2 separate regions of the Homo sapiens genome follow, and region 1 is linked to region 2. Evidence: fine-mapped expression QTL. A gene starts in region 2. The other region holds a variant in brackets. All regions are shown on one strand. Distances are between the middles of the regions.

Region 1 (4,393 bases), 560 kb before region 2:
TCTGATTCTTTGGTCCCACCACCTTTTGTTTGTTTGTTTGTTTGAGACAGAGTCTTGCCCTGTCTCCCAGGCTGGAGTGCAATGGCGCCATCTCAGCTCACTGCAACCTCTGCCTCCCGGGTTCAAGCGATTCTCTTGCCTCAGCCTCCAGAGTAGCTGGGACTACAGGCATGCAACACCACACCTGGCTATTTTTTATTTTTGTATTTTTAGTAGAGATGGGGTTTTGCCATGTTGGCCAGGATGGTCTCGATCTCTTGACCTCGTGATCTGCCTGCCTCAGCCTCCCAAAGTGCTGTGATTACAGGCGTGAGCCACCGCACCCGGCAGGTCCCACCACCTTTTAACTAACTGCCCCTCAGTCCCCTCATGTCCTCACTTCTCTCCTTACCCAGCATGGTAGGCAGAATTATCTGATGACCCCCATAGTATCTCTACCCCATTATTATGCCCTGTATAATCCCCCTTCCCTTGAAGGGGGTGGTCATTGTGACTTGCTTCTAACCGATAGAATATGGCCAGGATGATAGGATTTCACTCCTCTGATTTGCCCTGCCCCTACCTCTCTCTCTGTCTCTCTCTAGATATAGCTATGGCTCCATCTTGCTAGCATGCAAAGAACTCAAACTGATGGCCTTGAAGAAGCAAGAAGCTGCTATGCTATTGTGTACTACCTATGGAGATGGCCACATGGTAGGCAGCCCCTAGGGTCTGAGGGCCTTAGTTCTACAACCACAAAGAATTAAATTCTGCCAACAACCATGTAAGTTTGAAAGAGGACCTAAACCTCATATGACGCTGTGGTCCTGGACAACATCCTGATTGCAGCCTGTGTGACCCTGAGCAGAGAATCTAGTTAAGCTGTGCCTGGATTTCTAACCCATGGAAACTGGGAGACAATATGTGTTTTTTTACAGCTGTTAAATTTGTAGTAATTGGTTATGTGGCAATACAAAACTAATACACTCAGCTTAGATTTCATTATTCATCATTGTAATCACTCCCTTGCAAACATCCTTACTATTCTAGCCCTTGTGGCCAACAGATGCTAAAGTGACCTCCAGTAATCCCCACCACCTGGTGTTTATGCCCTATGTAATCTTATCTTCTGGAGTGTCAGCAGAACCTGTGACTTGTTTCTAGCCTTCTAGACTATGGCAGGCCAGGTGCAGTGGCTCATACCTGTAATCCCAGCACTTTGGGAGGCTGAGGTGGGAGGATCTTTTGAGCCCAGGAGTTTAACACCAGCCTGGAAACATAGCAAGACTCTGTTTCTACAAAATAAATAAATAAATAAATAAATAAATAAATAAATAAATAAATAACGATAGAATATGGCAAAGGTGATGGGATGTCACTTTGCTGAGACTCCATCTTGGTATACTGGAGTTACAGAGACTCTTTTCTGTCAGCTTTGAAAAAATAAGCTGCCAAGTTATCACAGGGCCACGTGGCAAGGAACTCATTACTTGCAGTTGAGAGCCAACTCTGGATGAAAGCTAGCAAGAAAATGAGGACCTCGGTCCTATAGCTTCAAGATTAATTCTTCCTTGATATGATATAGGAGATATTAAAGAAACAAAAGATGAATTCTTCCAACAGCCTGAGGGAGCTTGGAAGCAGATATTTTCCCTAGTTAAGCCTCTGATGAGACTGCAGCCCCAGTTGACACCCACGATGCAGCCTAGTTAGACCCTGAAAAAGAGGACCCAGATAATTTGTTCCCAGACTCTTGACACACAGAAACTGTGAGATAATACATGTGTGTTGTTTTATGTCTCTAACTTTGTGGTAACTTGTTACACAGCATAGAAAACAAACAGCCCGTCTCTCTCATCTTTATACTCATCTGGCCAAACACAACCCAGGTTACTCTCTGCCTCTGTAAGAGAGCAGCTGAATGCTGTTAGAGAAAACAAAACAAAAAAACCCCACAGAAGCCAATGATTTCACTCTAAAGTATTGATTGCAGACCTCAAATAGGCATTAGTA[C/G]CTGGGACTTATAGCAATCCTGCTGTGATCACCTCTCCACTCTCAGAGATAATTATCATTTTTTTTTGAGGCAGGGTCTTGCTCTCTTGCCCAGGCTGGAGTGCAGTGGTGCAATCTCGGCTCACTGCAACCTCTGCCTCCTGGGTTGAAGTGATTCTCCTGCTTCAGCCACCTGAGTAGCTGGGACTACCAGTGTGCACCACCACGCCCGGCTAATTTTTGTATTTTTAGTAGAGATGGGGTTTCACCATGTTGGCCAGGCTTGTCTCGAACTTCTGACCTCAGGTGATCCACCTGCCTTGGCCTCCCAAAGTGCTGGGATTACAGGCGTGACCCACCGCACCTGGCTGATATACCATCTTTAAGAGCCCCCTTGAATACCATGAGCTCTTCCTACTACTGCCTATTTCTCTGTTCCTCTCATGCAAACCTTCTCCAGATGTAAGTTACATATTACTCTCTCCACTTCATCTCCCACTCTTCAACCAACTGCAGTCTAGCTTCATACCACTCCATAGAACCCACTCTTGTCAAAGTCACCAAAGACTTCATGTCAAATCCAACAGACAGGTTTGTTTTTTTTTTCTCATCCTACTTGTCTTTTCAGTAGCATCTGGCAATCAACAATCCCTCCTAGAAACACGTGTGTTTCTTCTCAGTCTCTTTTGCTGACCTCTAAATATTGAAGTTCTCTGAGCTTGTAGAACCAACTGCCTCCTTGTCATCGCCACTGGATTATCTCACAAGCACCTCAAATTGAACATGTCTAAAACAGAAATCTTGATATTCTTCCCCAAGTCTTTCCCTCCTCTCACCTTCTCCCATCTGTATAACCAGTAGTTATTGAACTAGAAAGCTGAGAATCATCCCTTCTCTCACCTCCTTTACACTCAATTTATTATGGAGTGCTATTGGTTCTACCTCTAAAATTTATCCTGAATTTGTCCACATCTCTCCGTCTCCACTATCTCTAATCTACACCAAACCACCATTGTCTCTTGTTTGAACTTTTTTTTTTTTTTTCAGATGGAGTCTCACTCTGTCACCCAGGCTGGAGTGCAGTGGTGCAATCTCGGCTCAGTGCAACCTCTGCCTCCCAGGTTCAAGCGATTCTCCTGCCTCAGGCTCCTGAGTAGCTGGGACTACAGGTGCGCACCACTACTCCTGGCTAATTTTTTTGTATTTTTAGTAGAGATGGGGTTTCACCATTTTGGCCAGGATGGTCTCAAACTCCTGACCTCAGGTGATCCGCCCACCTCGGCCTCCCAAAGTGCTGGGATTACAGGCGTGAGCCACCGCACCTGGCCAGGTTGGGGAATTTTTTGACCATGGCTGATTTCCAGGAATACAGGGTTCAGATAAGTTTCAACATTGTCAGTGGTTATTTCAGTTTCCCGAGGGGCTTCTTCTAGAGATTTCAATCTGGGATATCAGTTTGGGGGCTTATCTAGGCACTCTAGAGGCCTATTCTTGGGTTCAATCTGAGCAACCTGAGTGGACCACTTAGGGCTGTTATTGCAGGTCAGTCAGTCTGAGGTCCTAGCCTGAAGGACTCAATTTGTGACTTTAGTTTGGCAGATCAGTTTCAGAGAACTCTACCTGGGAATTTTAGTCTGTAGAACTCAGTTTGGAGGCTCTGACTGTGAGGGGTACTCTATCTGCTAGGCACAGTCAAGGGGCTCATTCTGGATATGACAGGTTGATGCTCCATCCAAGGTTCATTCTAAGGTTGGTAGTATGACTTTCTTCTGCAGAGCTCAGAGTATTGCTTTAGTATGGGGATCTGAAACTTAATTCTGCAAACTGAGTCTCTTGTACTCAGCTTGGGGAGCTTCTTCAGGGGCCTCTGGGGAAATCATTTTAGGGGTTTGGTCTAGAAACTGTTTGGGCCACCTGCTTTATGGTAGTCTGTCCAGAGGTTCAGGCACTGGTATACCTGAGATCAATCTCATTGTATTAGTCAGTCAGGAGCTCTGTCTGGATCACTCACTGTTGGGTGCTCAGCATGGGCATTCAGACTTTTTGTTTGTTTTGGTTTGTTTTGTTTTGAGATGGAGTCTTGCTCTGTCGCCCAGGCTGGAGTGCAGTGGAATGATCTTGGCTCACTGCAACCCCCGCCTCCCAGGTTCAAGTGATTCTCCTGCCTCAGCCTCTCAAGTAGCTGGGATTATAGGCGCACACTACCACGCCTGGCTAATTTTTTGTATTTTTAGTAGAGACGGGGTTTCACCATGCTGGCCAGGCTGGTCTTGAACTTCTGACCTCAAATGATCCACACGCCTCGGCCTCCCAAGGTGCTGGGATTACAGGCGTGAGCCACCGCACCCAGTGGCATTCACTCTCCTGAGAGAAGTCCGGGAGTTCCGAGTGAGTTCTGAGTGAGCTCAGGCATTGGCTCACT
Region 2 (4,393 bases):
ACTTTACATGTTAATGTATTTAATCTTCAAAATAACATTAAGTAACTGTGTGTCTGCTAGAGAGGATGCTCCAAGAAAAAGGTGATTCAGACCTTACAGGGACCAATAGACTGGCCTCCCTAGCAAGAAGTGAACCAGACATTGTCCAGACTTGGCAACCACTATCTAAGTTTTTTGCATCTATGGTCTGATAAAATTTAGTCAAATATTAATGAGTGACTGTCTTGTACACACAGAGCCCCATTCTTGGCTATGGTGAGTGGTAGAGTGGAAGTAGCACAGAGTGACCATTTACTGAGCATCTACTATGAGCCAGGATCAGGGCCTGATGTTGAGGATATGATGGTAAATAAGACCACACACCCGCTTTCTTGTTTATATAACAAGAACAATAATAATTAGGATAATTAACAATTACTGCGTATGTACTATGTGCTGGACACTCTTCTAAGCACATCCCATGCTCCAGTTCATTTAATCTTCACAACTACACTGTTATTAACTTCCTTTTACAAGTGAGGAAACAGAAGCCAAGAGAGGTTAAGAGAGTTGTCCAAGGTCACAGACACAGGGGGAGATAGAGCTGGAACTCAAACCTAGGCAGTCTGGATCCAGAACCTCTGAATCAGTGAATTACTCCCAATAACACTGGGTTGCAGGCATTAATCCTGTTTTATAGCTGAGGAAAGTGACACTCCAAACAAAAGTAAGCACATATTTATTTTTCACCTTCTATTTGATAGAGACTATATTAGGTGATTTATGTATATTATCTCTCCAACTTGAAAGACACAGTTCCCAGGACTATAAGCATTCTAGCTCTGGAGGACCCGTGTATGCAGAGAATGGCTTGCTTGTTTGTCAACTAAACAGCCCCTTGGAAAAGGCCAAGAGTGGCTGGCTGGGCGAGGGTACCTCTCAGTCTCCAGGCTCCTAGATCTCCAGATGAGTGAGTGAGAGAGCTGGTGGAGATAAGAAAGAGAGAGAATAGGAGCCTAGTCTTTTTTCTCTCTCTTCCTCCACCCACACCCTACCTCCTGTATATTATAACTATATTTAACATCCTATATGCTCCTAGATCCTCTAAGCAACTACTGCTACCCCCAATATCCCTAAGCCTGGGCCTCCTCTAGCATTAGCAGACTGGAAACTTGGTTAGCTGGCCTTTGGGGTGTCTGAGTCCCACAGTCCACAGCTGCCTTATCTTAACCCACCTTATGGCCACTCAGGCCACAATCCCTGGGCTGGATGCACCTTGGTCCACCACTGTCGCCTGTTATCTATGGGAAATGGTACACTCCAGATTTTGTTTTAAATATGTACAGGTTTTGTTTTGCCCTTGATCTTTCTTAAATTTCCAAAGTGAGCACCACACCAGTGGGCTGGCCCTGAGAGACTGCCTCTCTCAAATTTCCAGAGCAGCAAGGAAGTCCATATGTGCCAGGAAGGCAACACTGGAGACAGGACATTAAGTGTTTCCCAACCTAGGCAGGTATAGACTCAGAAAAGGCCTGAGAAAGGAGAGGAGCAATACTGACCAGTGACATGGCACTGTTGTGTACCCAGCACCTGTCCCCTGAAAGATGATGCCAGGAGCCATCACCTTATTTCACCCAGGCACTATCAGTCAGGCAAGACCAACTCCCAGACACTTCACAGAAGTCACCAAAATGAAACATACTAGGCTATCACTGAACAGTCCTAAACTAGAAATCTTAAATTCCAAACAAGAAGCATTCCAAACAAGCTCTGCATAAGAAAGGAAAAGTTCCTAAAGATCCCTCTGATTAAGATGGTCTTAACCTAATCCTCCTTTGTCTTCATCTCTCTTTCCGCCTGTCTTCTCTCTCATTCTTTTCCTCACGTTTTTGACACTAGCCTCTATTTCATCCAGTTGTTCATCTATTCCAACTTTTAGGTTGAGGTAGGAGTGGATGGCAAGGGGAGGTGCATCCTTTGCTCTTCTACACCCACTCTACCACCACCACCTTTAAACCCACGGAAGCAAACCCCACTTACAGCCCCTTCTCCGTTGCAGCCTGCTGCTGCCGCTGCTGTGTGGAATCCAGATCTTCTGCAACCTGGTTTGGGTGAGCTCTCCCATCTCTGGAGACATCTTAGGAGTCGCACCGAATGACATCACTGCCCACAAGGTACCTGGCCTCACTTCCTATCTTACTAGCTGTCTTTTCTCTCGCTGTGGCCACAGCAGCAGGTGGACAGGGCTGGGACAGGGGGTGTACTGGGTTTCTGAGCCCTCTCAAAGTCTGTCTTCAGTCCCCTCTCTTCTTTCCTCTGGTCCTAGCCTGCCTCTGCTCCTGTATGTACTAGTGGGGTATTGGGTGCAGAGGGCGAGAGGTTGGGCAGAGGTCAGGAGAGGCCTCTGAACTCCAAGGGCTGTGTACATAGGAGGTAAGTTGGAGCCCAACAAGGAAGGCAGCCAGCAACACAGCCCAGGTCTGACCAGTCACTTCCCTCCAATGAAGACAAGACTAATAGAGTATGCAAATAAAAGACCAAAGATCATGTGCTTACAGCCTGTGTGGGGTATAGAGGCAAAGGTGATGGAGGTAGGTCTCAGCGGCTTTCCCAGCTTTGAAATAAAAAAATGGGCCCAAGTAGAATGTCAAGCTCCAACCCAGAAACCAAGATTCACATCAGAAATGCAAGGTTCCCAAGGACAAAAACACAAACACAAAGTCCCTACTGGGGAATGCAGTGTTTTGAGCTGGCAATTAGAGGCCCAAACTGGACATGGAAGGTCCACTACTTCTCTGCTTCCCCGACCCAAAATGGCATTGCATCCCTTGTCTTCTCTGGATTCTGCTGCCTTCCTTGCCACAGGGCCTCTCCCACCTGAAATGTGCTGCCTGGAGCACTCTTGAAGAGATGGGCACTATCCGATCATCTTTCTACTCTCTCCAGCCAAGGGCTAAATAAATAGGAGTAAACTGACACCTTTGGAAGAGTGCAGCCATTGCCTGGGGCTGGAGGTGGGGGAATGGTAAGCTCTGCCCACATGGCTGTTAGCCACCATCAGATGCCCTAAGGAGAATGACACTGGCATCATGAACTGATAGAAAATTTCACTAAAGTTCCTCATGCCAAGCTATTAGGATGGAGATTTAGGAGGGTGGAGGCTGCAGCAGGGAACAGAGAGCAATGGCCTCAAAGTAGGACAAGTCCATAGGCCAGAGTCATCCAGCCCAGATGACTCACTCTCACCTGCCCTCTCCCGCTCCCCTGACCCGTTGTTTTGAGGCTTTTATGTGTATAACTCATAGAACTGCACAGCTTGCCTCGAAGATGCACAAGTGTCCTCTTACTTCACTCTTTTGCAACCTTCCCACCCCCAATGAACCTCCAACGATTGGCTATGAAGAAGCTCAACTTTCTTCCACTGAGCTGGGCTACACAAGGGCAATCTCTTGGGGACAGAAATTTCCAATCCCTGCCCTCAAATGCTCTCAGTTCCACTTTGCCTTTTAAGAAGTTCCCTAAAATACATTTGCAAGCCGTAGTCTACACAAGGGTCAGATTCCCTCCAGTTGTTGTGTATAAATCATACCAAATTTTTAATACATTCCAGAGCCCACCTATCTAAATGAATCAACTGAGATAGCAGATCATGATGGTTAAGAGCAATAGGCTCTGGAGCAATATTTCTTGAGTGGAATCCTACCTCTGCCCCTTGTTGGCTATGAGGCAATGAGCAGAAGACTAAACTTTTCAGTGCTTCAGTTTTCTTATCTGGAACATGGGAATGATAGGAGTACCTACCCTCCTTAGGACTGTTGAAGATTCAATGTGTTAAAAAATGTAAAGCAATCTGTGAAATGTTAAAAATATATTATCTAACACTGTTACTCCCTTTGGGAGGTAAATGATCAGACACCTCCTTGACTAATCTGAAACTTCTAATATAATGCTGACCATACAGAAAACTCTCAGTTAAGGAAACTTACAATATTATGGGAAAGGGTTAACATTTATAATACACAAAGAGCTCCTGCAAATCAATTAGAAGGATGAATTTGGTTTTACTCTTTTGATTTTGTGTAAAGACTTGCAAGATCATTTCATCTCACCCTCTCAGGTAAGAAAACTGAGGTCTAGAAATATTTTCCTAAGGTCATGTAGTAAATCAGTGGCCAAGTCAGGAATAGAACACTAGGGACCTAATTTCTCCCAGGCCAGGGCTTTTCTTTAATTAATCAAACAAGCCTGATCTAAGAATGTGGTCTTACAGGTTAGCTCAGAACCTCTAGAGTCTCAGAACTAGACTTTGTAAGAGATACAACTCTTTTAATTCTAATAAATTTCCTAACTGGTATAAATCTGTTAATATTAATAATCTTAATTATAACCCTTTCCCTGTATGTTTTCCATTGCC

Direction of the effects. Alleles are on the strand shown, and positions count from the first base shown. SD is a standard deviation of normalised expression in the study named.
For the expression in cerebral cortex of the gene that starts at base 2,297 in region 2, allele G in region 1 goes with a higher level than allele C (moderate effect, 0.45 SD a copy in GTEx).

Evidence for each region. PIP is the estimated chance that this variant, and not a neighbour inherited with it, causes the effect. A credible set is the group of variants that fine-mapping cannot tell apart.
Region 1: its variant is the best candidate, but not a certain one, in a credible set for the expression of PFKFB1 in cerebral cortex (GTEx, PIP 0.62).

What each region holds. Positions count from the first base shown.
Region 1 is chrX:54,426,937-54,431,329 of GRCh38, forward strand. No RefSeq gene overlaps it. Among named protein-coding and RNA genes, the nearest start is that of TSR2, 11 kb to the right of the region's middle. The variant C/G (reference allele first, on the strand shown) is at 1,993.
Region 2 is chrX:54,991,892-54,996,284 of GRCh38, forward strand. PFKFB1 (6-phosphofructo-2-kinase/fructose-2,6-biphosphatase 1) reads right to left here and starts at 2,297. Exons shown (of 14, transcript NM_002625.4): 1 at 2,020-2,297. The coding sequence starts at 2,116.